Homo sapiens: one gene and its partners. The protein of the gene in region 1 interacts with the protein of each later gene in a pairwise test. Each region holds a gene or a part of one and is shown in the gene's direction. Other genes may lie near its edges. The genes, in order: DHX15, KRT75, RBM10 and AGGF1.

Region 1 (7,026 bases):
TTGATAATTTTTGAAGTTTATTCAAGTATTTGACTAAGTTAAAAGTTACAGTAATTCTTTACATGCATTCAAGTTTACTCTTCAGTAGATAACTTCTGCATTTTTTGACTGAGACTTAAAATTGCTATTTTGTGGATTTGGTTGTTATTAAAATACAACTATAATTATTTTTTAAATATTTAGTGTTCATTAATTTTGTTCATACAAATAGCTGACTTTTCTATAGTTGATCCTACATTTCGCTGATTAATATGGTTCAGAGCATACATTGCTCAGTGAAAAAGAGAAATGGCCCTTGTGGAGATGGTCCTGTAGTTTTAAAGAAAGACTTAATGATCCAGGATCTGAAGATAGCTTACTGTGGTGCTGCTGGGATGTTTATAAGCAAATAAGTTGATGTCCTTGTGTTGGAGACCACCACAGAGTTCCCTGGGGACTAAAAGTCCAAATTAGTTTAAATGCATTATTGTGTCCAGACAGTATTCAGGTAGGGCAAATGAAGTACTGCGAGTTCTACTTTGAAGTGGAGTTATTGGGGGCGGAGTGGGGGGAAGTGGTTCTATTAGAAAAAAAGTGAGTTCTATTAGAAGGCAGGTTATTGAGGGAGGAAAATTTACTCTTAGCATGTCCTGACAGTGATGCCAAGCTTTTCACCATAGGGTCTGTTCCATATTAGTCAATGCGGTTTGAACACTTTTTAAGGCTCTTTGAACGCTTACTGCAGTGTTGCAGTCTAGAAAGCATGTAACAATTATATTGATTCTTACTGGTCATAATGTAAATCCCTTGACAAATTCAAGGTCATTTTGTCTCCTGATGGGTTCCTGGTTGTATGGTGTGCCATTTACAATTAGAACATGGTTAGGGCTTGCCTCACTCAACTGCTGAAGTACCAAAGAAGCTTTTATCTTGTCATTTATTAGTTCGCTTTTGCATTGTGTGTGTGTGTATTTAGCCTTAGCTATTTTTAGTCCTTGAGAAAGGCCTAAAACTTGTGCTTTTTTGTTAAGGACTCAATTTAACACTTGTATTTTAGGGTTTGACTTTTGGCTGGCAATAGGCTCTTACTAATATCAATAATGACGAGGGTTTGCCAAGTTGGCATAAATCATTTGATTCTTAAACACTTGCAGAATCATGTATCCGCGAATTGTTAAGTATTACAGAATTTAATACACTCACCCAGACAAAAAACATACACACAGGATGAAATTATTTTGTGGAGAAAAATTAACTTTTTATAATGGTAACTAAAGAGTTGGTCACATGAGAAATTTTTATCACATTGTATTATGTTATAGAAGAAATATGTGAAATGTATTTTTTCCCAGAACAACTTTTTTAAAAGTGATTTTCTTCATAAATATTTTCAGAACTATGGTTTTCACCCCAGAATTCCAGAAAGCCAGAAGACGTCTTCTGTATTTACAGGCATGTAGTTGGTTCTGTATAGATTTGAGATAGGGTCTCAGTCTGTTGCCTAGGGTGGAGTTCTGTGCCATGATCATAGCTCACTGCAACCTGAACCTCCTGGACTCAAGCAGTCCTCCCACCTTAGCCTCCTCGGTAGCTGGGACTACAAGCATGTGCCACCATGCCTGGCTAATTTCTTTTATTTTTTTGTAGAGGTGGGGTTTTACTATGTTGTCCAGGCTTGTCTCAAACTCCTGGACTCAAATAATCCTCCTTGGCCTTTTTAAGTGCTGGGATTACGGATGTGAGCCACCATGCCTGGCCTATTCTGTATAGTTTATAGAGCATTTCCACATCCTTACATAATTTATTCCCTACAACCCTGTGTTATGTAGACTAAGTAATATGCAAGTTATAAAAGGAATACAAGCTTGGGGGTGTTAAAACCTTTCCAGTTACTTTAGCCACTCAGGTTTGATTGCTAGGTCTGCCAGTTACCTCTAAATTCATCGCTTCTTTAACTACAAGAAACTGACTTTCTAGAATATTAAATGCCGGTTATGCTTATTCAAGTTTCACCTGTTAACCTTATGTATGTCGTTGTTTGCTTCAGTTCTAGTTGCTGATTATTTTTCTAAATGTCCTGAAGAATGTATTTCAGCAACATCATCAAACCACATGTGGTTTCTTATTCCTTTGCTAGTTGTCAGTCTTTTCAACTGACAAAAGGAAACATTTTGGTTTTTGACTTGTAAATTATTCTGAAATACCCTCTTGGTAGATTGCTATTATGTTTTTAAATCCCTGAGGTTTCCTGTTAGTATTTTGGGAAGTCTACTACTTAGTAAATATGAAATCAGAAAATGAAAGTGTTAATATTAAGTAAAATAGTTAATGCAGCAAAAGCCTATGATTTTTAAAGCTATTTGATTTATAAAATTAAGTGTTTTTAAAATAAAATAGGGATAAATATAAATCTTTTCATTTTTTGTATGTGCCCATAGGCATTTCTCCCACATGTGTTTTTTTAAGATGGAACTTTAGTGCTAGTGCTGTTTCCTTCTCTCATGAGTAGGTCTTAACCTTACCGTCAAGGACTGTCCTAAATGCTATTATTTTTCAGTAAAGCTTTTCTTGACTTTGCTATGGAAGTAAACCTTTTTAAATTTCACAGTGTGTCTTTGGTGCCACTCACACTTTCTATCCATGTCTAATCATCCCTTACAAATGGTAAAAGCAGACTCTGTTTGATTCATCTTCTGTATCAATTGCTTGCATATACAGACATCTTCAACTTAATATCAGTAACCTGTTCCTGAAAATCATGTCCTGAGTTAAAATACTAATGAGGAATCCCCATTTCCCATTGTTTAAAAAAAAATTATATGTAACATGTATTTCCCAAGTCCTTAACTAATTTTCTAAAACATATGTAATATATAGTAAAACATGCACGTATACCAAACAAGCTATCATATTAGTATGTAAATGCTTTAAACATTTTCCGTCAATAAAGAATTATAGTTCTTAACAGTTGCTTTGTATGTAGTAACGTATTACATGTCATCCCGTTGAGACCATGCACTTACCGAAATATTTACATTTGATTCTGCTGATCTGTCCATTCTTACTGGATTATAACTTGAGTTTTTTTCCATGTGGCATTTTGTTTAAAATGTTGAGTTGAATTTTGGTGATATAAATAACGAAGTTTTCATTTGTAAATATTGCCCAAAAACATTGAAATATACACTTGTGGAAATTTGAATACTAATTATAAGGGCTGTTTTATCAGACGTTTTGTAAGGCACGTTATATTGCTTCATCAGTATTTTTCTTTTTATGCTGTCCATTAATTTGATTAAGCAAAATGTAATGCGGTTGAGTGATAACCTGAAGTAATAGCTTTGTTGAGAAAGAAGTTGCTGTTGTGGTGTAAACAAAATTTTGGTTCCTTAAATATTAATTTACCTTTTTAAAGCATTGGCCATTGAAGATCAAATGATATTTCTAGTTTATTTGCTGGCTTGAAATTCCTTGTGTCAGTGAAAGTTAGTGGCTGATCTTTAACAGTCCTGTTAATTTTATTTGATATGTAATATAATTTATATACTCTATTTCTTAACAGGTAGTTGTGTCAACTAACATAGCAGAGACGTCTTTGACAATAGATGGTGTGGTGTTTGTGATTGATCCTGGATTTGCGAAACAGAAGGTACATATTTAGTGGATACTTTATAAATTAGAGTTGGTTTAACAGTACTTACAACCAATTCATTTAATGGCTAAAATTTACCTTTCAGAATTATTTTCCTATCTTTTTTTTTATTTGCAAATTTCTGCTGTATGAACCCTTTATGTTTTGGCTGGCTCTCAGAAATTAAGACAGTATTTAATATGTAATTCTAGGCTTTTTTTTCTTTTAGAGTTGCTTTGCTTTCTTTGTTTCAGTGTAGTGACGGTGGGTGTTTTGGCTTGTATATTCATTTAACAGTATGGGTTTAGTAATAAAGTACAGGATTTCTATCCCTGCAGTTCAGTCACTTCTCCCAACATTATTAGAGTTACTGCTGTCAACTAGGCACACTATTTGAAAACAGTACTATGTTACTCCTCTAGTTTAACAGTGCTGTATACTAAATGAAGTGAAATGCAGGTGAAGTGGCTATTCAATAAATACGTTTTATTTTTCAAATATCTTTTGGATAAATTGATTACATTTTGTTATTGATGGAAATTTTTTCATTAAACAGTAACAGAGTAATAGTACTCAGACCGTCGAGTTTTGAAAGTGAAGGTTTCTTTTCGGGCAGAATCCTTGACTGCCCAGCATATAAAAAGCAAGGAACAAGGTCAGCCTGATAGAACTGAAATTAGGAGGAGTAAGGATTATATAAGCTGTGTGTTTGACAAGAAGTTTTTCATGTTAGAGTCTTTCAGATGATCGAATTAGAATGTCTGAAAGAACTTTAAGGTTCAGGATGGTGGGTTGTCTATTGTAGCAGCATGATTTATGGCTATCGATATTTCTTTATTTATTTTGGAATTAACTGTGGGCTTTGGATACTTCTGTTGCATCACAATTTTGTGTTTGACTGAAGAAAGACTCTTGTGTTATTTCAATTCCAATAGGTCTACAATCCTCGAATCAGAGTTGAGTCCCTTTTGGTGACAGCTATTAGTAAAGCTTCAGCTCAGCAAAGGGCTGGTCGAGCTGGACGTACCAGACCTGGAAAATGCTTCAGACTTTACACAGAGAAAGCTTATAAAACAGAAATGCAGGTATGGGGTATTGTCGTTTCCTGCCGATATGTTTAAAATGTTAGGTTGAATTATCTTACCAGAAGAACATTGCCTTATTTACTTAATCTTGCCTTTTAGGATTAAAAGCTCCTTAGCTTTTCCAGGAGTGAAATGTATGGTGTAATTAACTTAGATAGTCGTACACCCCCTTATTCCAGGCTGATACATTCCAAGACCCTCCCCCTCCCACGCCTAAAAACTGGAATATGCTGAACCTTACTTACATATACTATGTATAAATATCTTTCTTTACAATTTCACTGATAGAAGATGCATTCTTTCTTTAGATGTGATTTTTTTGCTCTTTTGTTACTAGGTTTCAACTTTTTTTCTTTCCTTACTAACTTTCAGCGTTTCACTTAAAGGAAGCACTTCAGGGCCTCTCATTGGCATATCCAAATTGCCAGCATCAATATTCTTGGCGCTTTGGGGCCATTATTAAGTAAAAGGTTACTTGAGCACAAGCACTGTGATACTGCAAAAGTTGATCTAATAACAGATGGTTGCTAAGTGACAAATGGGTGTATAGTGTATATAGCATACTACTAAGAATGGTGCACAATTTAAACTTGATGAATTTTTTCTGGAATCTTTAAAATTTTTTCTGTTGACACTGCTTAACTGAAACCATGGAAATTGCGAGTTCAGATGAGTGAAGACTACTATACGAATTTCTTTCTGCAGTTGCGAGTTTTATGGACAGTAGCAAACACTGAATACTATAAAGATAGTTGGAGAAAAATGGTTTCTCTCTAGTCTAGCCTACAAGTATTTATCTCTACTGAGACAGTGTAGAAGTAATGCCAAAACAAATAGCTCAGGAGGCAGCAGATTTTTGTTTTCTGGAACGAGGAGACTGAGGCATTTTTAACATAACCAATAAATGTTTTTGTTCTTTGCTAGGATAACACCTATCCTGAGATTTTGCGTTCTAATTTAGGATCAGTTGTGTTACAATTGAAGAAACTTGGTATTGATGACTTGGTACATTTTGATTTTATGGATCCACCAGGTATGACTTATCAAAACACATTTTTATCAGATCTTTTAACCAAAATTGACTCTTAGTGTTTTTCTCCATCCTATTTAATATATGTATTAAATACATTTTGCTTTTTCCATCCAGTATGCATCAAGATTAAGTCTTACATGATAGCATTAAAACTAAAAAAGGTGACAGTTATATGAGCACATTTTTTTTTTTTCTTCAAAAGTTATTATGGGGGGGTTTGGGTAAATTGAATTATCCTCTGGGCATGAAAATGTGAGAATTCCTAAGTTTTCTTTGGGGAAAAACAGTTTGATAAACACATTGATGAATTAGCAATTATTTAATGTATTTCGGAAGAAGACAGTTTTGCCTACAGGAAAATTTTGCAATGTTTTTATGATTCATTGTTTGCTAGATCTGTATAATTGAATTGGATGACAGTTTGAGTTTGAGTTTGGTCCACTGCAAAATGAAAAATGAGATTGCTTATAATAGTTTGTACTTTGTCACATTTTTGCTTGCTTAAGGCACCGTGTCTAATAGATTGTCTTTTACCACTAGCTCCTGAAACTCTGATGAGAGCCCTGGAACTTTTGAATTACCTGGCTGCTTTAAATGATGATGGAGATCTGACTGAATTGGGATCCATGATGGCAGAGTTTCCTCTAGATCCACAGCTCGCAAAAATGGTTATTGCAAGTTGTGACTACAACTGTTCTAATGAGGTCCTATCTATTACTGCTATGTTGTCAGGTAATAGAGGGAAAGGAACAAAAAAAAGCCCAGCTCTTCAAAGTTTGGGTGGACTTCACTTTTGTTTTTGTTTTTTAATTTTTAGTATGATAGTGGATTTTATAGATGGTTTTAAGGAATTAATTTTGTTTTCTAAATACCTTGTAAATAGCTTCGTAATGACATAGTGCTTACAAAAGTAAAGTAAGTCATTGTGCACAAAAGATAAGTAAAGCATTGGCTCTCTTGAGTGCTAATAAAAATTGCAGTAAGTTTGAGCACAGTTGTAACTGAATTCTTTGGTTAAAGGTCCATCACTGCTATCTTTGTGGTTTTTTTGTTTTTTGTTTTTTACTGCAAGTACAGGAAGAACTTTGCTCTAGTACTTAGCTCTATTAAGTGTGCCTGTGACAAACTGAAAGCTATACATTAAGTTGAGCCTTTTCTATATATGTACTCCAATGGCACCCGAACAAACATGAATTTCAAACTTCATATCAAGTAAATAGAAATAGTAATGTATAATTTTAGGCTTAAAATCTAATCTGATAATGGTATTCTTTTACAATGGTAGAAAAACTTGGTAA
Region 2 (7,033 bases), on another chromosome or scaffold:
GCTGGGCAGTGCCTATTAGACACACCAAACATTGAGGAAGTGCGGCCACCCCAGCACAAATAGTGAAGACGGCAAAGCATTTCTGGCCAGCATGTCTCAGGTGCCATCACAACAGAATTACCTTCTCCACACTCGGCCCCTGGAGTGTCCACAACAGAATTACCTTCTCCACACTCGGCCCCTGGAGTGTCCACAACAGAATTACCTTCTCCACACTCGGCCCCTGGAGTGTCCACAACAGAATTACCTTCTCCACACTCGGCCCCTGGGAGTGTCAGCTGGGAGACCCGGATTGTGTCTGCCCCTCCAAATCACCTCTGCTCCCCTCCTCTTTCCATATAAACTCCAGGAGGGAAGGGAGTTGTGGCTGCTTTCTTCACTGCTGTATCTCCTGTGCTAGAACAGCGAGTGCCTGGCATATTATAGATGCTAATAAATAGTTACTCACTAAAGCCAGGACTCCACAGAGAGTAGGAGAAGTCTGGGAAGTCTAGCAGTCGAGGAATCGGGGGCAGGTGGCTGTGGCCTAAGTCCTCAGATGCTGCGCCCAGGCCCCTGGTTCTATGATTCAGGCCAGCCTGCTCTAGGGAGGTAACCCCTGCTGCCCCATGGTCTTTAGCCCTGGTGGCCCCGCCCTGGCCCTGGCCTGGCTGGAAGCCAAAGCTCCCTGGGGCATTCCCCACTCCTCATCTGTGGAAGAGGCATCCCCCACCCACTTCCTCTCCTCCTCCACAGCCCTGATCGCCACCTGGCCCCATGTCCTGGGATCCACCACCTGCGAAGGACGTTAGTGTTCCTCCCAGGATAACAGAGATCACCCTGAGCAGGATGGGCGGAGAACAGGGAAATTGAAGAGTTTTCCTCTCCCAGCCTCACGCACCAGAGCACAAACCATGGCCCCTGAATCCAGCACTTCTCCAAACTCAAGAAAACTCCTCTCAGATAGACCCAATAACACAGAGATGGAGAGGGCTGCAGAAAGACTGGAGAACAGAAAGGAATGTGTAGTTCTTCTTTAAATTAGACAGCCTGAATCACACAGACTTCTGCCACAATTCTATCTGGGGTGGCTAGGAGGCTAGTCAGAGCTGGGAGGAAAACGCCCAACCCTCAGAAGTGGACCAACACTCGTACCACCAGAAAACGAAGACATCAAAGGGCATGCCAGACACAGGCATTCCAGGCAAACAGCGTTAAGGGGTAGTGCTGGGCCCAGTTCACCTTCGATGACTTCTTAGGGATAAGTTGTAAGCAGAATTACAAAGAGGTTAAAAACAAAACAAAAATGTCAGAAAGCGAAGAAGTTGTTAACAATCCTTGAGTTTTGAGATTTTTAAAAGGGTGGTGACACAAGTTGTCAGGGAAGCCAGGTGTCCCAGGCACTCTTCTAGATATTGACCACCAGGATAAAGGTCACTGTGCAGGTCAAAGGTCACAGAAGAGGGAGTGGAGGAGGAAGGGAGGTGAACGATCTTTCTATTTCAATCTAACTCGGCAAAGCCTGTGAGTAAGACCGTCTAGCTTCAGAAACAACAGTCCTGGAAAAACTAGAGGGGAAGGAGGAAAAGAATAAATGAGCAGCCCCAGGCAAGAGGTGATGGCTGAGAAAAACCAGAATGGAAACAGAATGAGATGAAGTGCCTGGGAAGAGGGCTCCAGCAGGGGACATGGGAAAGAAAGGAATGGCTGGGAGGGAAGGCAGCCTGGAGCCTGCTTCCCACGTGGGAAGCATGGTGAGAGAAGGCTGGGGACCTCCCTTCCCGTGGGCATGCTGGCCCAGCCACTCACCACGCCTGGACCCTCCAAGACCTTTGTTTTGTGGAAAGCTCTGCAAGCGTTTGCTCAGTATGGCTCAGGAAACAAGTGTCCTTTCTTCTGGGGGCCAGATTATCATGCAATGAAGAGTACAGAAAACAAACATAATTATTCTTTCCACTTGAGAACCATGCACCACCCTGGCTGGGGTTGGCAACGGAACCAGGTGAAGGAACTCCTCTGCTCTTCCTGGCCTGTATCAACACAAGCTATGATTCATATCTTTCCTGTGGAAACTGAGACTCCCAAATAATCTCTAGATGGGGGAGAGGCTTACCCCCGGGCCTCAGTCCCAAGGAGGAAACAGTTTAGAGAACAAAGAACTACCGCTCCAAGTGCCAAGCTGCCATTCCAGGCAGGTGAGAACATCTGCCAAATGGTCGGTTACCAGTGTGCCCCTAAAAGGACACCTGTGTGGAAAGACCATGGAATCTGGCTCTGCTTCTTGTGGGTCTGTCTGACTAGTTAACCATTCTGGGCTCAATGCCCTCATCCACGAAATGGAGACTGAATGCTGATTAATTCCTCTCTTACTCTCCCAGGCTTCAAAACCACAGCAAGAAGAAAGCAGGCAGCAAGATAAAAGAAGATTCAGGCCAGGCGCGGTGGCTTAAGCCCGTAATCTCAGTACTTTGGGAGGCCAAAGAGGATGGATGACTTGAGCTCAAGAGTTCAAGACTAGCCTGAGCAAAATGTCGACACCCAGTTTTTACAAAATAGTAAAAAAATTAGAGAGGCATGGTGGAGCATGCCTGTAGTCCCAGCTACTCAGGAAGCTGAGGTGGGATGATCACCTGAGCCCAGGAGGTGGCGGTTGCAGTGAGCCGAGATTGAGCTGCTGCACTCCAGCCTGGGTGACAGAGTGAGACCCTGTCTCAAGGCAGAAAAAAAAAGAAGATTCAGCAATGTTTTGGTTTGACTCTTCCCATGGTAGAGATGGGGCAATGAGTTGCAGAACAGAGAGATGAGGTGCCTTGAAGTCTTCTTTGCGGTTTGTAGACTAATATAGAATGTAGGGCACAGTCTACAAGGTTAACAGGAGAAACAGGGAAGGAACGAATCCTCTGCTAGGTGCAGCTGTTGGAGCTCTTTTGATGAAGGACTGGAGAGCTAGGAATTCTTGGTCCTCAGGAGGAGGAGGAAACTGCCTGGGAGACTTCTGGGATAGGCAGCCTCAAATGCAGCTTGGAGGTGATGATTCATGGTACACCATCTTGTACAGTTTTATCTTCCCAACAGGACCATGAGCTTGTTGAAGATAAATAATGTGCATTGTGTTTCTTTTGAATTCCCACAGGACTAGTCACAGGATGGACATGGTTGGCACTTCCTTAATATTACTTGATTGTATCAGAAAGAGGGGAGCCTCAATAGACATTTACTCAGCACTTACATATACCGGGCATTGCGAAAGTTTTCACATGTGAATATTCATTACAAACCCCATTTTACAGACATGAAAGTTGAGGCACAGAAAAGTTTCATGGCTTGCTCAAGGTCCCACAACTATGAGCAGGTCTGAGATTCAAACCCGAGTCTTTCTCCTCTCACAACCTCTCTTCCCAGGAGACAGAGCACTGGCTGGCCTTGAGAGTCACATTATATTGCAGTGGGCAGGGCACAGGCACACATACACTCCAGAAAACCATGTGTGACCTACACAATAGACACGGAAGCTTAAGAGCAGAATAAAGGGGCAATCAAAATGGGGTGGATTCCTAAGGAAGATGATTACAGAGCGCGACCTTCAAGGTTTGGAAAGACAGCTTGATGGGGCTTGGGGAACCAGGCAGTAGGTGCTGAGAAAATGCTTAGGGAATAGGAAGCACCCCAAGGAAACAGTGAAGTGTAGTGGCTTGTATTAACACAAGATGTTTGGACAGGACGGAGTTGGTCCCAGGCCTAAGAAAGCGGTTTAGAAATGAGGCAGTGTTTGCTGAGTCCTTTACAAGATGCATCATTAGCACATGACGGAAAGCAATTAACTTGCTTCTTACTCATATGCTGATCAAGTTGCAACTGGAAAGGAGTTTGCACGTTGTGGGGAGGGGGTGCCAGGGAACCAGCCAGTGGCCCTTACACCATTTCCCGAGGGATGCCGAGTGTGAGCTCAGGGTTGGCGGATGCCCAGGGAATGCCATCAGAAGGCCCTCTCCACTAGCAGTGCCCCGCCCCCACAGGATGCTCATAAAAGCCACGAGACCAGGGCTCTCCAGCCACCTGTCTTCTCCACTGCCTGTACCAGCCCACCTCAGGTGCCTTCTCGCCGGCCTTCCTCACCCACCATGTCTCGGCAGTCCTCCATCACCTTCCAGTCTGGCAGCCGCAGGGGCTTCAGCACCACCTCGGCCATCACCCCGGCAGCTGGCCGCTCCCGCTTCAGCTCTGTCTCTGTGGCCCGCTCTGCAGCAGGGAGTGGGGGCCTGGGAAGGATCAGCAGTGCTGGGGCCAGCTTTGGAAGCCGCAGCCTCTACAACCTGGGGGGTGCCAAGCGGGTCTCCATCAATGGGTGTGGCAGCAGCTGCCGAAGTGGCTTTGGTGGCAGGGCCAGCAACAGGTTTGGAGTCAACAGTGGATTTGGCTATGGGGGTGGAGTTGGAGGAGGCTTCAGTGGCCCCAGCTTCCCCGTGTGTCCCCCTGGAGGCATCCAAGAGGTCACTGTCAACCAGAGTCTCCTGACTCCTCTTCACCTGCAAATCGACCCCACCATCCAGCGGGTGCGGGCCGAGGAGCGCGAGCAGATCAAGACCCTCAACAATAAGTTCGCCTCCTTCATCGACAAGGTAAGCAGGGGCTTCATCCACCCCCTTGGGTTTGGGATCAAATAAACTCTTGGAAGGGCCATCCCATGGGGGGAGAGCAATAATGCAATGACCCCACTGTGGGAATGAGCACTGTTCAGCACGGGCTCCCAGGGGCTGAGACCCTTCCAAGTCAGGCCAGCTTGCCCCACAGGACCTGGTAGAAATTTCCTCTCTTTCGGAGCCACATGGGCTGGTTCAGTCAACACCAAGGGAAGAGTTTTGTTGATTCTCTACAGGAGAGTTGCTGCTCAGCAAACTACCCTAACCCAGAGTAGGTGGTGTTGAGAAACTTAACCCAAGAGCAGCTCCCCAACAGAAGCCTCTAGGCCCCACCACCCGAATCCTATGCAAGCCCTAGGGAACTTTGCGGTAGCTCCATGGACTGCCTCCTTTTGGGTTGGAGTTGTCAGTTACATTATTGTCAATGGGTGCCAAGTGAAAAAAATATCTTTTTCTTCTCTCCCTTATTAATAGGAGTGTCTAACTCTGCCTCTCCAACTTCTCAAGGTTTCATTCTCTCTTCTTCCCTCCAGGTGAGGTTCTTGGAGCAGCAGAACAAGGTCCTGGAGACCAAGTGGGCCCTCCTGCAGGAGCAGGGCTCCAGGACTGTGAGGCAGAACCTAGAGCCCCTCTTTGATTCCTATACCAGTGAGCTCCGACGGCAGCTGGAAAGCATCACCACCGAGAGGGGCAGGCTTGAAGCTGAACTGAGGAACATGCAGGATGTTGTGGAAGATTTCAAAGTCAGGTAAGTGGGAGACTGGCTTCTGGCCACACACAGCCATCTGAAGGCTCCTTTGTGTGAGGACCAGAGAGGTGCAAAGGAGCAAATGCCGATATCAGCCGGGAGCTTTGGAACTGCAGCCTTTATCCTGCAAGGTGGAGACAGCACTGTGTGGGGTAGCACAAGGACCTTCATCTTGTGTATTGCTATGAAGATCCTATTCCTATTTGTTCACATGACTGCAAAGGGATATCAACATCATCCGACAAAATATTGCTACTCACTCTAGAAATCATAATGTAATTTCACAGTCAGCATATTGTTTAATTCCATTGGACATGGGCTCAATTATTGAGATGGTTTGCATTTCCAGGATGGCATTCACTGTAGAGTGAAGAGAGGTAACAAGGAAGAGTTTAAAGGAGGGCAATCTGACTTTTCTTGTGGGGGGAAACTTTTGACTGCACATCATCCAGGCTGCAGTAGGTGAGGTATCCAGTGGAAAGGGATTTGGTCCAGACTAACCCATTAGCCAGCTTGCCCTTATTTCTAAGCTTGAGCTACCCCTAGTTACAAAAAGCATATTTCTCAGGGGCCACCCTGAGGTTCAGTGAAAATATATCAAAATCTACCCGAAACAGCCTGCTGAACAGATAAAGTTTACTCCACGATTTCGGTAGACACTTGAGGTGGAAAAACATTTTAGATTAGCATTGCATATCTATCAAAAGATGGAGTTGCATAAGTATATTTTTGTATTCCTTTAAGTTCCATGCTCACCTTCTACTCTTAGAAAAGTTTATTAAAAACTAGCAGAAGAAATTATCCCCCTTTTATGGAGGGAGAAATAGAGGTTAAATGAATCACCCAAAGTCATGCCCAGGTCAGCAGAAGAGCTGGAAATGATTTGAGGGCTCTTAACTCTTGCTACACCAGCCTGGAAAGAGTTCAATGCAGACTTGCTCAACAGCACACCCCCCGCTCTGTCCTTATAGGTACGAAGATGAAATTAACAAGCGCACAGCTGCTGAGAATGAATTTGTAGCCCTGAAAAAGGTGAGTGGGGATGTTTCTCTCAAAGGAGAAGGTTTAAAATGGAATCTGGAGTGTGGGGTAACCTGACCTCTGACCCTTGGGCCACCCAAGAAATGTCACATCAACCTTGAGAATATCTGCAGAGTTCAAACCTCCCAACATGTTCCCTCTACGTTGATGGCCCCATTAGCCCTACTTGGGTTTCTGTGAGCTCAGGGAATTCAAGCCCCCAGTTCTCCGTAATTACCCATCCCCAACCCCAAATCACCCAGACCCAGAGTTTTCTAAAATCCAAACTAGATGGGCTGGGGAGAAATCTGCTCAGCTTCTTTTGGACTAGATACTTGGGGCTGCAGACTCAAAGGAGCATCCTGCGCTGTCATTCCAGGACGTAGATGCTGCCTATATGAACAAGGTGGAGCTGGAAGCCAAGGTCAAATCTCTGCCCGAGGAGATCAACTTCATCCACTCAGTCTTTGATGCAGTAAGAGTCTGCAAGTATTTCTGTCTCTCCTAGGTCTGGAGCCTGGAAAGAAAAGGATGATGCATTGTGCCATTCATTCATTCAGTGCCTCTGCCCAGCATCTTGCTTGGATACTTCAAGCTGGGGCTTGGGTGGTAGGGGGACCAGGGAGAACCACTTGGAGCCTTGTCA
Region 3 (7,026 bases), on another chromosome or scaffold:
GGGTTTCTCCCCACTGTCCGGCAAGCGTCGGTCAGCCGAACACTGTGTGCCTGGTGGTGTGTGTTCACATGTGTGCGTGCGTGTGCCCGGCAGAGCAGCAAACAGCTGCGCCCGAGAGCTGTGGCGCTTTCCCTCCCTACCTCCCTTCTTCCCTCCATCCGCTCTCCGACCTCCCTCCGTTCCCTGTCCCTCATCCATCCAGCTGAAGGGCTCGCTCACTCTCTTCTCCTATGCTGAAACGGTGCGTGGGGCACTGCTGCCTGGACCTCACTGTGCTCTGCTTTTTCCCGCAGCACTCCCTCAACATCCTGGGCCAGAAGGTGTCGATGCACTACAGTGACCCCAAGCCCAAGATCAATGAGGACTGGCTGTGCAATAAGGTACAGGGGCGGTGGGCAGCAGTTGTCATGGACAGAGACAGCAACAGCAGTGGCGGCGATCTCTCCCTTCCTCTCCCGCTCTTTCTCCCTCCATCTCTCCCCCTCCCCCAATCTCTCCTCTCCCTCTGTCTCTCTCTCTCTCTCTCTCTCTCTCTCTCATTCTCTATCCCTTGCTAGCTCAGCTTGAGTAGTCACCATTCCTAGCCAGCCATATACAAATGTGTAGTGAGCGTTCACTTGGTGCAGGCTCTGTCCTCCTAAAATGCAGTCTTGCCTGGAGTTCCAGTAGACTTTAAGGAAATATATACGTGGATGATGAATTAGTGACAGTGTAGACTTGAAGTGGTGGTGTGGAGAATGTGGGCTTCAGAGCCAGACTGGCTGAAATGAGACTATCCCAGATCGGCCTTGATTTTGGCCAAGGTGCTTAGCCTCTCTTTGCCTCACTTTCCCCATCTCTAAAATGTGAATATTAATGACACCTCTCCCAAAAGGTGGTTGGGAGGATTCAGCTGTGTTAATGAGAGAGTAACACTCAGAACAGTGCCTGGCCCACATTTAACACAGTCGAATTGTTAACTGTAATCATGAAAGAAAAGCACAGAGCGTTCTGAGAGCCCATAGCAGGTAGCTCAAGCCTGAAGGCCACTCTGACCAGGCCAAGTCAAACCTGAAACTGGAGGCTGTGGTTTTGTAGTCACCTCTGTCTTCCCTGAGGGGAAGCTGAGGCTCAGAGAGGTGGAACCATGGGTGAACCTTTAGCTGTGCCCTGTGCCTTGCTCCTGATCACAGGGACTTGGATGCCACAGTGGCTTCAGGTCTGCCCTGGGGCCAGCATTGTGATTCCACAGTTTGTAGAGGCCCCAACCCTCTCCCCAGGAAGTACTCTGCCTAGTCAGGGAGAGTGGTGCATCTGTTTTAAAAAAAAAAGTCCCATCAGAGGATTGGTGCTTAACATTTCTGGAGAGATAAAGACAAAGTGACAGTGGAACTCCTTCCTGTGTTTCCAGATAGCCTCAAAACCAGGGAATTCTCTTTTTTTTTTTTTTGAGACAGGATCTGGCTCTGTCGCCCAGGCTGGAGTGCAGCAATCTGGGCTCACTGCAACCTCTGTCTCCAGCGCTCAAGCCATCAGCCTCCAGAGTAGCTGGGACCACAGGCGCATGCCACCACACCCACTAATTTTTGCCTTTTTATTTTTATTTTTTTTGGTAGAGACAGGGTTTCGTCATGTTTGCCAGGCTGGTCTTGAACTCCTGAGCTCAAGCAGTCCTCACGCCTCAGCCTCCCAAAGTGCTGGGATTACAGGCGTGAGCCACCACGCCCAGCCCAAAACCAGGGAATTCTCTTGAACTCCTTCCCCTCCCCTGCATCCTGTTGGCCACCAGGTCCTGTCACTTCCATCACAGAAACGCCACCTTCCCTCCCTCGCCATTCCCGCTGCTCATGCCAATCGTCACGCTCTCACCCACTCACTGTGGAGCCCTCTCTGGTATGCTGGCCTCTTGTCCTCTTTCTCCCACGCCCTCACCTGGAACATTCCTCAAAACCACCTCTGACTACCCACGCCTCTCCTCCTCTGCTTAACCAGCCCCAGCTCAGCTTAAGCATAAGATCCTCCATTACCTAACTGGCTTCCTTCCCCGGCCTTGGCTTTTGCTTCTCCCCTTACTCTCCCACACCAGTTTCGGAAAGTCCATTGTTCCCTCCGATAACAATCCCTCCCCAGCAAGGCTTAACAAAATGAAACTTCTGGGCATCCCAGGTCAAACCTCCCTGCTTCTGTGCAGGGACTGTCCCTGCCGAGTAAATGGCACCCCACCCCCAGCCCATTTCCCTCCCCGAGCCCCTGCTGGATGGTCCATGCAGACCGACCTGCCCCTCTTCATGCTGCATCTGCCCCTGTGCTATTAGGCCATGAGGGCAGAGACCATGTTCTGGCCATGTGCAGCAGGGCCTGGCCCAGGAGTGGTGCTTAGTACCTGAGTCTGGAACAGAGATGGAGTGTGGTAGAAGCTGGGTCTCCAGATGCTGGAACATTCAAGGAAAATTTCTCAAGCGTAGCAGGATCCAACCCAGTCCTAGAGCTAAGAGGAGGGGTGCGGGTCTGGCTACTGACTTCTAGGGCTGAAACACTGAAAGGTTTCTGAATAGAGGAGCAAGTTTCAGGGAGAGGAACCTAATAAAGGGATTGAATACCTGAGGCGGGGAACAGTCCTGGGAGTTGGTGGCCTTAAGAAGGCAGAGGAAGGAGAGGAGGGAGTTGTTGTACCAAATGGGGGAGTTGTTTATTCCTGAGCTGAGTGGGTTGGCACAGAGGACAAATGAGAGTCTGGAAAGGGAAGATGCACAGTACTGAGAACAACATCAGAAGGTTCAGAAGGCACCTGCCACCATTGCCTAGGGGCTTTCCTTCCTGGGGCACTGCGGGGTCCCTGGGAGATCTCTTCATCCAAGTTTGGAGGGTGCAGTGGGAAATCCCTGCTCCCTCTGACGGCCTGGCCTGTGCCTCACAGTGTGGCGTCCAGAACTTCAAACGCCGAGAGAAGTGCTTCAAATGTGGCGTGCCCAAGTCAGGTGAGGCCCACCTACCTCTCGTGCTCTCCAGGGCGGAGCGGTTGGGGAGAAGGGAAGGGTGAGGGGTCTGTGCTCAGGGCTTGGTATAGGGAGGAGGGTGACCAGTCGTGGAGCCTTCCCCTTATCACCAGCCTGTCTCCCACTGCCCCTGACAGAGGCAGAGCAGAAGCTGCCCCTCGGCACGAGGCTGGATCAGCAGACACTGCCACTGGGTGGCCGGGAGCTGAGCCAGGGCCTGCTTCCCCTGCCGCAGCCCTACCAGGCCCAGGGAGTCCTGGCCTCCCAAGCCCTGTCACAGGGCTCGGAGCCAAGCTCAGAGAACGCCAATGACAGTGAGTCAGTTGTTCCTTCTTCCTCTGTGCCCTAGGGTGTCGGGCTGGGCTCACCAAGACCAGAGAAATGGCAGTGAGCAGGACCTCATCCTCATGGAATCTCCACTTGGTGCGGGGATAGACATTTGATGTAGGGAGAACAGGGGGAGTGGCAACATCCCACCTGACTTTGGGGGTGTGTCGGGAAGGTTCTCAGCAGACAGGCAGCCAGGCTGGCACCTGGACCGCCAAGCAGAGTTGATCCTGGAGGAAGCAGTGAGGGAAGCGGCAGTTGCAAAGGCACGGAGTGAGTGGGGGCAGAGGAAAGGGAGCAGTGGGGGCATTGAAGGGCAGGGCTGGCAAGAGTGCCAGGGGTGTCCTCTAACATTGGGCCCCTTCCCACAGCCATCATTTTGCGCAACCTGAACCCACACAGCACCATGGATTCCATCCTGGGGGCCCTGGCACCCTACGCGGTGCTGTCCTCCTCCAACGTGCGCGTCATAAAGGACAAGCAGACCCAACTGAACCGCGGCTTTGCCTTCATCCAGCTCTCCACCATCGTGGTGAGGGCGGCACAGTTGGGGGCCGGGCAGCCAGGGTCCCGGCCCCCGGGGTGGAGACGAGGGTCCTTTTCCCCAGCCTCCCACCGCGGCTGCCAGCCTGGAAATCGGGCAATGGAGCCGGGGGCCTCCCCGGGCCTGACCCTTCTGTCCCTGCCTCCCCTCCTCCCACAGGAGGCAGCCCAGCTGCTGCAGATCCTGCAGGCCCTGCACCCACCACTCACTATCGACGGCAAGACCATCAATGTTGAGTTTGCCAAGGGTTCTAAGAGGTCAGGGCCCCACCTGTGTGCCTTCCCACCCTTCCCCTCCCCACCCTCCCACTCCCCCCTACCGCTTGGGGCCTCCTATCTCACTCCCAGTCTCTAACATCCTCCTCAGGGACATGGCCTCCAATGAAGGCAGTCGCATCAGTGCTGCCTCTGTGGCCAGCACTGCCATTGCTGCGGCCCAGTGGGCCATCTCACAGGTACTCAGACCCCTTGTGCCTCCCAGCGTCCTGAGACCTGGGCTTTCTCAACCCTCCTGCACCCTCTCTGAAGCAGGAAGGCTGGCTTGCTATCCATGGATGCAAAACCCTCTCCCAGTAGCTGGCATGGCTATTCTACCTTGCTCCTGGCTCTCTAGACCCCCTGGGACATTCCCCTTCATCATCACCGCAGCTTTCTTCCCAATTGCCTCCCATGCGCTCATGTACGACGCCATTGTGCCTGGCATTCTGTGCTGTTTGGTGGGGTTTTTATTGTCCTGAATAGGTATGATATACACATATCCTTATATGTAATATATACATATATGATATACACGTATCATATGTTCCTGAATAAAAATAACGTATAAGTGGTTGAGAGAAAATTGGGAGAAGAGAATAAAGAAGTAAGAAGATGGTGTCTTCCTTGGCCTGACACCCAACACACACGCCACACACAGCAGAATCAGCAGAATCAGCCCTGGAACATTTTGGCGTTCATCTGTTTTTCTGTCTTGTGTTTGCCACTGGCCTATTTGTTCTCTTGTGGCCAGGCAACCCTCGCTTTCCACTTGTCTTAAGGCTGCATGCTTTGTCTGTCAGGTAGAAATACTAGCCCCACGTGTGGGACAGATGCTTCTAGCAGGTTCCCCACCCCCCACCCCCACACCTTCCTGTTCTAATGAACCCCTCCCACCTGCCCTTCAGGCCTCCCAAGGTGGGGAGGGTACCTGGGCCACCTCCGAGGAGCCGCCGGTCGACTACAGCTACTACCAACAGGATGAGGGCTATGGCAACAGCCAGGGCACAGAGTCTTCCCTCTATGCCCATGGCTACCTCAAGGGCACCAAGGGCCCTGGCATCACTGGAACCAAAGGGGATCCCACTGGAGCAGGTGAGCCCCAGCATCTCTCTCTGCAGCTGTGGTGGGGGCCAGCAGGCATAAAGTCCCCGGCCCCATTATTCACAGGCATTGTCCCTGCCCTGTCCCTCCTTACAGGTCCCGAGGCCTCCCTAGAGCCTGGGGCCGACTCTGTGTCGATGCAGGCTTTCTCTCGCGCCCAGCCTGGTGCTGCTCCTGGCATCTACCAACAATCAGCCGAGGCGAGCAGTAGCCAGGGCACTGCTGCCAACAGCCAGGTGAGTGAGCCCTGTGGGTATGTATCCCGGGGAGGCAGGCAGGCGGCAGGGGTGGCATGGGCAGACACTGAGCCCTGTTCTCCTGTCTGGCCCCATGACCAGTCGTATACCATCATGTCACCCGCTGTGCTCAAATCTGAGCTCCAGAGCCCTACCCATCCTAGTTCTGCTCTCCCACCGGCTACCAGCCCCACTGCCCAGGAATCCTACAGCCAGTACCGTGAGTAGCCACAGCCTGTGGGTAGGGGTGGGGAGTTCTTAATAAAGCAGGGAATAGTGTGACCCCGTTCCCCTCACCCCCTAGCTGTTCCCGACGTCTCTACCTACCAGTACGATGAGACCTCCGGCTACTACTATGACCCCCAGACCGGCCTCTACTATGACCCCAACTCCCAGGTAATAGGGCAGCCCAGGGAGGGATGGGATCGGGTCAGGTCGCGTCAGGAACAGCTAGCCCTGCAGGTTCCCTTCACAAGGTCTTCCCTCACATCCCCTCTTCCCTCCTCCTCCCTCAGTATTACTACAATGCTCAGAGCCAGCAGTACCTGTACTGGGATGGGGAGAGGCGGACCTATGTTCCCGCCCTGGAGCAGTCGGCCGACGGACATAAGGAGACAGGGGCACCCTCGAAGGAGGGCAAAGAGAAGAAGGAGAAGCACAAGACCAAGACAGCTCAACAGGTGAACACCAGGGTCCAGCAGTCACTGGCTGGCTGTGTGGTGTCTTCCAGCAACGGCACTCTGTCAGCTCTTGCCCTCTCCTGCCAAGGGAGATGGCGGGCAGGTGTGGATGTGGGCAGTGACTGCTTAGCAGACCATGCTCTTGCCCCAGCTCTGCTCTTTGCTGAATGGCCTTGAGCCAGAGCAGTCTCCTCAGTGTGTGGCAGGGTTGCCCAACTCCAGGAGGTGGCTTGTGCCATCCGAGTGAGCCCTGTCAGGTGTCTTCTGTCCCATGGTGGGGACCCTCACATTCTGCTGGTGAATATACATGTATGCCAGAGAAATTCTCACAGGCCATAAGGGGGTGGGCAGGAAAAAAGCCCTGCAATGTTTTGTGGGAGTGGGCAGATGGAGGGCACCTCAGTGTCTCTCTGTGGAGAAAGGGTGTGACACTGTGAGCGTAGCGTTTACAAGCAAGCACTAAGTGTTACCTTAGCAACCTGATGAATTCTAAAAATGGTGCTGTGCTGGGGGGAACATGGAAATATAGAATGTGGCATTGTGTCATGCATATAAAGTTATACACAAATAAACATTCCTATGCATTTTTAAATGATAAAATGGAAATGCACAACAAATGTGACAGCGTGGGTGTATGTCAGGGGAAGAGGAGTGTCTTCATCCATTTGCTGCTCCATAACAATACCACAGACTGGGTAATTTATAAGGAAAAGAGATTGATTTGGCTCACAGTTCTGTAGGCAGGGAAGCCCAGTGGTGTTGGCATCTGGTGAGGGCCTTCTTGCCGCATCATAACATGGCAAAGGGCAAGAGAGCATGCATGAGAGCAAGAGAAAATTGGGCCAAACTCCCCCTTTTTATCTGGAACCCACTCAGTGATGGCATTAAATGGAGACTCAAAAGGTG
Region 4 (6,981 bases), on another chromosome or scaffold:
GCGAGCTCAGAACTAGGCCCATATATAAAGATGGGAACCTGATGGAAGATGATGGTGGTACTACAAAGCAATGCAAAGGGGATGGTCTTGAGAAAACTAGGTCATGTCTGAATACCCCCAGCTGGAATAGAGAACAAATGTGAAAGTTCAAATTATAAGATCAATAGAAGAAAATATGACTTGGGGTAAGGAAAGTCTTCATGAAACCCTACACTGTAAAGCCAAATAAAATTTTAAAAAGTAAAATAAAATAAAGACTGATTTCATGACATACAAATTAAGAACTCCTGGCTAACAAAGAACACTGGACAAAGCTAACAAATATATGACAAACTGGGAGAAGATATCTGTAATATCTAAAACTGATAAAGAAGGAATACCTTGTTTATATAAAGAACTGCAAAATAACAAGAAAGAAATGGGCAAAAAGATATGGATAGGCAATTCACAGAAAGGAAAGGACATATAGCCATTTCAACATATATACATTTCAACAAATGTATGAGATTCTCTAGTAATCAGAGGAGTATCAATTAAAACAGCAAGGAAATAGCTCATTATATTCATAATGGCAAAAAGTACAAAAAATGGTTCATATCATTTATTGGAGAGGATGTGGGAAAAAAACATTACAAAACAAAATCAAATCGTGAAGGGTGTCAAGTAGAATGCTTTTTTAGGGCAGCGCCTCTGCCCACTATGCTAAGTACCTCTTAGATCTGAAAACTAGGTGTGGCAAAGACTGCTATTTACATACTCAACATGAATTTTGCCCTTCTTCCTTACTTGTAGAACCCCTATATTATTAGGAGAATAATGCGTCTAGCTTAGAAAAACACACATATACACATAATTCCCAGCCCCACTTGCAGCAAGGGGTGGCTATTGATAGGTAGACAGGAACCATTGAGTGGGGCTTTGGGAAAGTCCTTTCATCCCTTGCCATCTTGCACCATGGATCGACCTGGAGGCTCTGGAAACATGCTCCGAGAATAGCAGAGCAGAAAGACATACCGAGCCTGGGTCCCTGAAGAACTGTGGAGTCACTGGCCATGGACTGCCCCTCTCTAGGCTTCTGTAATGTAACAGGATAACACCCTAATTTGTTTAATAAGCCACTATAGACCACCTCTGATACTAGCACCTTAATGCAATTCCTGATATTCAAGGCTTTTTCTAAAAAAATGTCATTCTTTTCTAATGGTCAGAGGTAGGATACAGACTGGTATTACAAGGTAAAGATAACTTAGCCTTGAACAGATTAAGACAAATAAGAGGAGCACTGCTTCAAGTAGCAGTCAATAAGCTTATTTATTTTTTCTCCAGTTAATTACTAAAAACTGAAATATCATCTTAAAGATACCTTTCAAATGGTATTTATGGAATTTCTTATCCCCTAAAGAAAATAGGTGGAGAAAGTAGAAAATAGCATCTTTTTAAAAGGACTTCAATATGTTCATTAATGGAGTCATAATGCATCAAGGGAAGTCAGAAATTTTTTGCAATACATCTTTTTTTTTGCATCACAGGGGACATACCATGTCTTCTCACTAAACTTCCTTTGATGGCTTAAGGTTACTCTTGACATGACAATAAGGTAGAATCTCTATGTTTCCAGATACAGTGCCTTGTGAAGAACTCTTCAGGCCTAAGGAGGAATGTGTACAGGCCCTAGAGAGGGCAGGTCTCTGCTGGAAAGCTCACTGTTTATGAATAATCTAGTGGGCAGTGCACAAGACAAAAATACATACAGAGCCATATTTTAAAATTTAGATTTTATTATTATTTATGTATGGTGAGGCCAACAGATCAGGAGATGGTCTGCTATCAAAAAGACAGTTTATTATTCACCCAGCCCAAGAGGAGGATGCACACCAAGCCACACAAGGCAATGTGGAGAAGCACCAAGGTCCAAAGGAGGCAGAAGGAGTGGGAGGAAACATGGCAAAAAACATTATGTGATTTTTGCAGGAAGGAATGGACAAATCAGGATAAGCAGGTTTAGTTTGCATAATTTCAGTGGGATCTGAGATGTAGGAGTTGTTCCTAGTTGTCTGGTACTTTGCCCTGGAGTGATTAGGGCAGGGGAATATTGGCATGGAGTGTAACAGCCTGATAAAGAAGGTAGATGATCAGTGTGTGGCATGCTGGGTGAGTTGTTTGCTATGTCTAGGAATTAGCTAACCCTTGGAGGGGTTATCTCCCTGGTCAGGGAGACCCCAGATGCCAGAGCATCAAGAATACAAAAAATAAGAAAATATAGTTAATGGAAGTGGCCACTGATCTAAGACACCAAACAGGATTCTCTTGTTCAGCTGTGTTCAGCATTTACGGATACTGCTCTGCGACAGGCACTGTGCTGGGCCCTGAGAGAGGAGCATCTGCATGACACAGCTGCTGACCTCCACAAATCTCAGGCCCAGGACTCTGAGCTCATGATCTAATTCTAAATGACTTTGGCAAAGGAAGGAAGTGTGTTCCAAAGAAGGCCACATCAGTTTAAATATTGGCAAACCAATGCCAGGGTCATGCAGACAAAAGACCAAATAAATGCACCAAACCAGAGCATTTTTCTCCCCTTTTCCACAGAATATTGTCTCTCTCTTATTTTCCCACCAGGGATGCTCCTTTTTGCGACTCAGACCTAATGTACTTGCTCTATTTTCCCGGGGGGTCTAAACTCAGGAACCAGAAGAATGACTAAATGAGAAATAAAAGTAAAATTCTGAGCCCCTGAACTGACTGAATAGACCCATTGTTCACTACATAGAAAGCCAGTCATTGAGACAAGGAGTATTGCCAGGGAAGAAGGTTCTATTTGGGTGCTGCAGCCAAGGAGAATAGGAAATCAGTCTCAAATCCATCTCCTCAACCAACTAAAATTAGAGGTTTATATGGCAAGGGAGAAATGTGACTACATGTGAGAAAACAGGAATTAGTGAGCGGTAAGGATGAGGACTTGTTCAACAGGCAGCAGGTGGCTGGTTAGGCAATCATGATGGGTGAGGGGTATGGTGCCTCATTGTCCAGATGCAGTGATCTGGTAAGTTTCAATTCCTTGATACTATCTGGGAGGCCTCATGGTTGGTTTCCCAAGAAAGGAACTCAGATAAGAAAGATGTAACTTTCTGAAGTTTTAAGACTGGGAGGGTAAATTTCCAGGTTTATTCAAAAGAAACCATAAACATCAGTTCTATAGGACAGTTGGGCTGATTTCACACCAACCAGCATTCCTTCCTGATAAGAGACCACCAACCACAGAGAAGTTCTGGCCAATCTACCAGGGACTCACAGCGAGGGTTTTCATGTCCTCTGCTTTGCCATTTGACATCAGAGGGCTGAAAACTTCACACTGGGATCATGCTAACACCACCATTTTTTGAATATGGGTCCCATAGAGAGGCAGGAAGCTTAATTGTGCATGTGCATATTTCTCCTTTCATAAATATTCATGAATCCTCCTACAGCTCATTGAATATATTTGGCCACCCTGCTCAGCATAAATTTCTGTTCCCTTTGTCCTTCCTTCCAAGTGTCTGTTCTCAGCTTCTGACCAGAGGCTATGCTTCCAAGCCTGTCAGAAAGGCCACCCTGCAGGCTGTAACCCTTCATGAGAAATAAAGCCCTTTTCTAAATTTATTAACCTCCTCATTCTTCAGTTGACATAAGTAGAGCATCATAGTCCCCACAAATCATTTCTGGGATACTCTGTTCTTATTTGTAAAACAAGGAGATAGGAAATGCATGCTATACTAAAAGTTTGTTCAAAGAACATCCGCACGTGCAAATGTCTGAGACCAGAGGCTGCAAGCCTCCCTGTCGCTCTTAGGGCTTCGGTAGCCACATTGCCACAGCTCTCCACGCCCTCAGGTAACGCCCCTCCGCAGGCCGAGACGTCGGCACGTACACTGTCAGGTCTTCCCGCTTTCCGTCGCTTCCTGTTCCGTCTTGGTCCCGCCTGCCGCTGGCGCCGTTGTTTCCGGCTCAACTGGGGAGCTGCTGGAGCTCTTCTGGCCTCTGGTTTTCCGACTGCTTATCCGACGCTCCTCCCTCTGTCTCTGTAGCTGGAGAAGGTAGTTTCCAGGAAAGTTTTCCGGTTTGCAGGCCGCGCACATCGGGCAGGGGCCATCCTCGGTCCCCTTGCTCGTTGCTCGCAGCCCCGTTCGGCTACAAGTGAGTTTCAGGGCGTCATGGCCAGGGGCCACCGCGGCCAGCCGGGTGTGAGGCTGCCTTTCGCTGCCCGCGCGCTCCAGTGGTCTCTGGGTCCGCCGGCGTCCGTTTCGGCCTGAACGCAGCCCCTCCGCGGCGACGAGCAGTCTCGCGCCGGAGCTCATGGCCTCGGAGGCGCCGTCCCCGCCGCGGTCGCCGCCGCCGCCCACCTCCCCCGAGCCTGAGCTGGCCCAGCTAAGGCGGAAGGTGGAGAAGTTGGAACGTGAACTGCGGAGCTGCAAGCGGCAGGTGCGGGAGATCGAGAAGCTGCTGCATCACACAGAACGGCTGTACCAGAACGCAGAAAGCAACAACCAGGAGCTCCGCACGCAGGTGCGCGGTCCTCCTCAGCCCCGCGCCCCATCCAGCCCAGGCGAGGCCTTCGAAGCCCGTGATAGCCTCGGAAGGGGTCCCTGGCAGGGGCTCAGAACTACTGTAGAGTACTTAAAGTAAATAAGTAGAAGCTCAGCGCAGTTACAATTCCAAGTACCTTAGGAGCAAACCTGAGTTCAGGTTACTTGATTTAAATCAATGTCTCGCGGCTGGCGTGAATTGAACTTAAGTACTGTGGCTACATTGTCTTCATTCTCACTTGACCTAACATCCCATTGGCAGTAGGCGCATTTACTGTAGATCACATTTGAGTTTATTAAAATGCTGGACTTGAGTCAGAATCCCATCTCTGCTATTCACTGGGTGTGTGAACTTATATACCGAGTCTCAGTTCCCCATTAAATGAGAATGATAGCTCACAGTAGTAAAGGTGAAGTAAAACAAACAATTTTACAAACTTTTGAATGCTATACCTGTTTAAGGTTGCTCTTCTGGGCGTTTATCATCTTCGGCTTTCTTGTGTAAGTAGGGACGATATATAACTGCTTTTGTTGGAGACGTTAAGCAGCTTATTTCGTTTCCAAGATGGTAGGGGCAAATGTTAATACTTAAACTGTCACATTAAAAACAACCTTGGCTGGACGCGGTAGCTCACGCCTGTAATCCCAGCACTTTGGGAGGCCGAGGCGGGCAGATCACCAGGTCAGGAGTTCGAGAGCAGTCTGGCCAGCATGGTGAAATACAAAATTTAGCCGGGCGTCTCTACTAAATACAAAAATTAGCCGGGCGTGGCGGCGGGCACCTGGAATCGCAGCTAGTCGGGAGGCTGAGGCAGGAGAATTGCTTGAACCTAGGTGGTGGAGGTTGCAGTGAGCCGAGATCGTGCCACTGCACTCCAGCCAGGGCGACAGAGTGCAACTCTGTCTCAAAATAAAAACCAAAAAACCAAGAGCATAGTATTTTTTTCTACCTTGTTGGCAGGCCCTCTCTGCCAACAGATTATTTCCACATAGTAACTAGTTTCAATTTGACCGTTGTCTAGTCCTTCATAATTTATTGGTGGTTTCCTAAAACCAGTATATAGGCTGAACACTGAAACGTCATCAGACTTCTTTGTTTTGTTACCAAATGGACTATGAAAATAACTGTTGAGTTGCAATGACTTTGTATGACCATTACATGGAGTTCCTGACATGACATTATTGGAAAGTTTTTGTTTAGTCAATTTAAACACCTACGGTGTGTAATAACTATGCTAGGAAAATACAAATATGGTAAAAAAAAAAAAAAAAAAAAAACAGGGAGAGGTGGCTGGGCGCGGTGGCTCACGCCTGTAATCCTAGCACTTTGGGAGGCCGAGGCGGGCGAATCACGAGGTCAGAAGATCGAGACCATCCTGGCTAACACAGTAAAACCCTGTCTCTAGTAAAAATACAAAAAAAATTAGCCGAGCGTGGTGGCGGGCGCCTGTAGTCCCAGCTACAGGCTGAGGCAGGAGAATGGCGTGAACCCGGGAGGCGGAGCTTGCAGTGAGCCGAGATTGCGCCACTGCACTCCAGCCTGGGCGACAAAGCAAGACTCCGTCTCAAAAAAAAAAAAAAAAAAAAAAATGGGGAGACGGGAGCAAAATATAACAGCCTTTTTTACATGACAGCCTTTTGAAAAGCTCCTTTATAATTCTAAATTGTTGAAGTACTGCTTGCGTTAGAGATTCTAAAAGAAAACGTTTTTTGCTAATCTTCAGAGAGCCAGCATTTTGGTGTTACTGTTAATTTGATAAATCAGACTAAATGATGGGACTTTGTGAACAGATCCTTTATTTCTTACAGAAAAGAATGTTTTTATGCTAATATTTTGAGAGGTCAGCAATTCTCCCTAAAGAATTAGAAAATTTAAGAGCTATCAATTCCCATTCATGTTATCTAATATCATTCAATGTTCACGTGGATTTAGTTATTAAATGTTAATGCCTCTTATAAGCTTTAATACACTTTAAAAAAATAGTAGTTCTGTGACTAAACTGCAGCAGAAGCGAACAGAAGGTAATTGCCTGAGAGGATCATCTGTCCTCCACATGCCTCCATTTTAGTCCAATATTAAAAATTTAATCTCATAGAAAGTCTTGACTCTACTTTGAATAGTGATAACTCCTTACTCTCCTAGTCAGCCTCCCTTGGTTGGGGAGAGGGTGGATTCGATTAACTGTCATTCCAAATTACTGAATGTGTTTTATTTGGAGCAGTTAAAAAGTTTTGCTTGAGAATGATAACTGGAGAACCATAATATGTATAGGGTTTGTACAAGACCCCAAAATAGCCTTGTGCAAATTACTTTGTCTTGTCTGATATTTTATGTGTAAAATTGGGGTTAGGACAACGAATATTTCAGGTGGTTTTGTGAATTAATGAGATGTTATCTAAAGCATCAAGTATAGTGCCC

The links.
Region 2: the proteins of DHX15 (region 1) and KRT75 interact in binary tests that used the Homo sapiens proteins (3 or more experiments, as listed by UniProt).
Region 3: the proteins of DHX15 (region 1) and RBM10 interact in binary tests that used the Homo sapiens proteins (3 or more experiments, as listed by UniProt).
Region 4: the proteins of DHX15 (region 1) and AGGF1 interact in binary tests that used the Homo sapiens proteins (3 or more experiments, as listed by UniProt).

What each region holds. Positions count from the first base shown.
Region 1 is NC_000004.12:24,539,542-24,546,567, reverse strand, and holds part of DHX15 (ATP-dependent RNA helicase DHX15), read left to right. Parts: intron 1-3,541; coding exon 3,542-3,628; intron 3,629-4,545; coding exon 4,546-4,695; intron 4,696-5,619; coding exon 5,620-5,728; intron 5,729-6,268; coding exon 6,269-6,460; intron 6,461-7,026.
Region 2 is NC_000012.12:52,431,372-52,438,404, reverse strand, and holds the start of KRT75 (keratin, type II cytoskeletal 75), read left to right. Parts: upstream 1-4,033; 5' UTR 4,034-4,100; coding exon 4,101-4,598; intron 4,599-5,152; coding exon 5,153-5,367; intron 5,368-6,338; coding exon 6,339-6,399; intron 6,400-6,766; coding exon 6,767-6,862; intron 6,863-7,033.
Region 3 is NC_000023.11:47,176,207-47,183,232, forward strand, and holds part of RBM10 (RNA-binding protein 10), read left to right. Parts: intron 1-293; coding exon 294-380; intron 381-2,896; coding exon 2,897-2,957; intron 2,958-3,112; coding exon 3,113-3,289; intron 3,290-3,339; exon of another isoform or gene 3,340-3,575; intron 3,576-3,673; coding exon 3,674-3,834; intron 3,835-4,005; coding exon 4,006-4,103; intron 4,104-4,212; coding exon 4,213-4,300; intron 4,301-5,008; coding exon 5,009-5,195; intron 5,196-5,300; coding exon 5,301-5,440; intron 5,441-5,542; coding exon 5,543-5,660; intron 5,661-5,744; coding exon 5,745-5,836; intron 5,837-5,955; coding exon 5,956-6,120; intron 6,121-7,026. UniProt on the Homo sapiens protein: Binds to ssRNA containing the consensus sequence 5'-AGGUAA-3'. May be involved in post-transcriptional processing, most probably in mRNA splicing. Binds to RNA homopolymers, with a preference for poly(G) and poly(U) and little for poly(A).
Region 4 is NC_000005.10:77,026,435-77,033,415, forward strand, and holds the start of AGGF1 (angiogenic factor with G patch and FHA domains 1), read left to right. Parts: upstream 1-3,969; 5' UTR 3,970-4,332; coding exon 4,333-4,542; intron 4,543-6,981. UniProt on the Homo sapiens protein: Promotes angiogenesis and the proliferation of endothelial cells. Able to bind to endothelial cells and promote cell proliferation, suggesting that it may act in an autocrine fashion.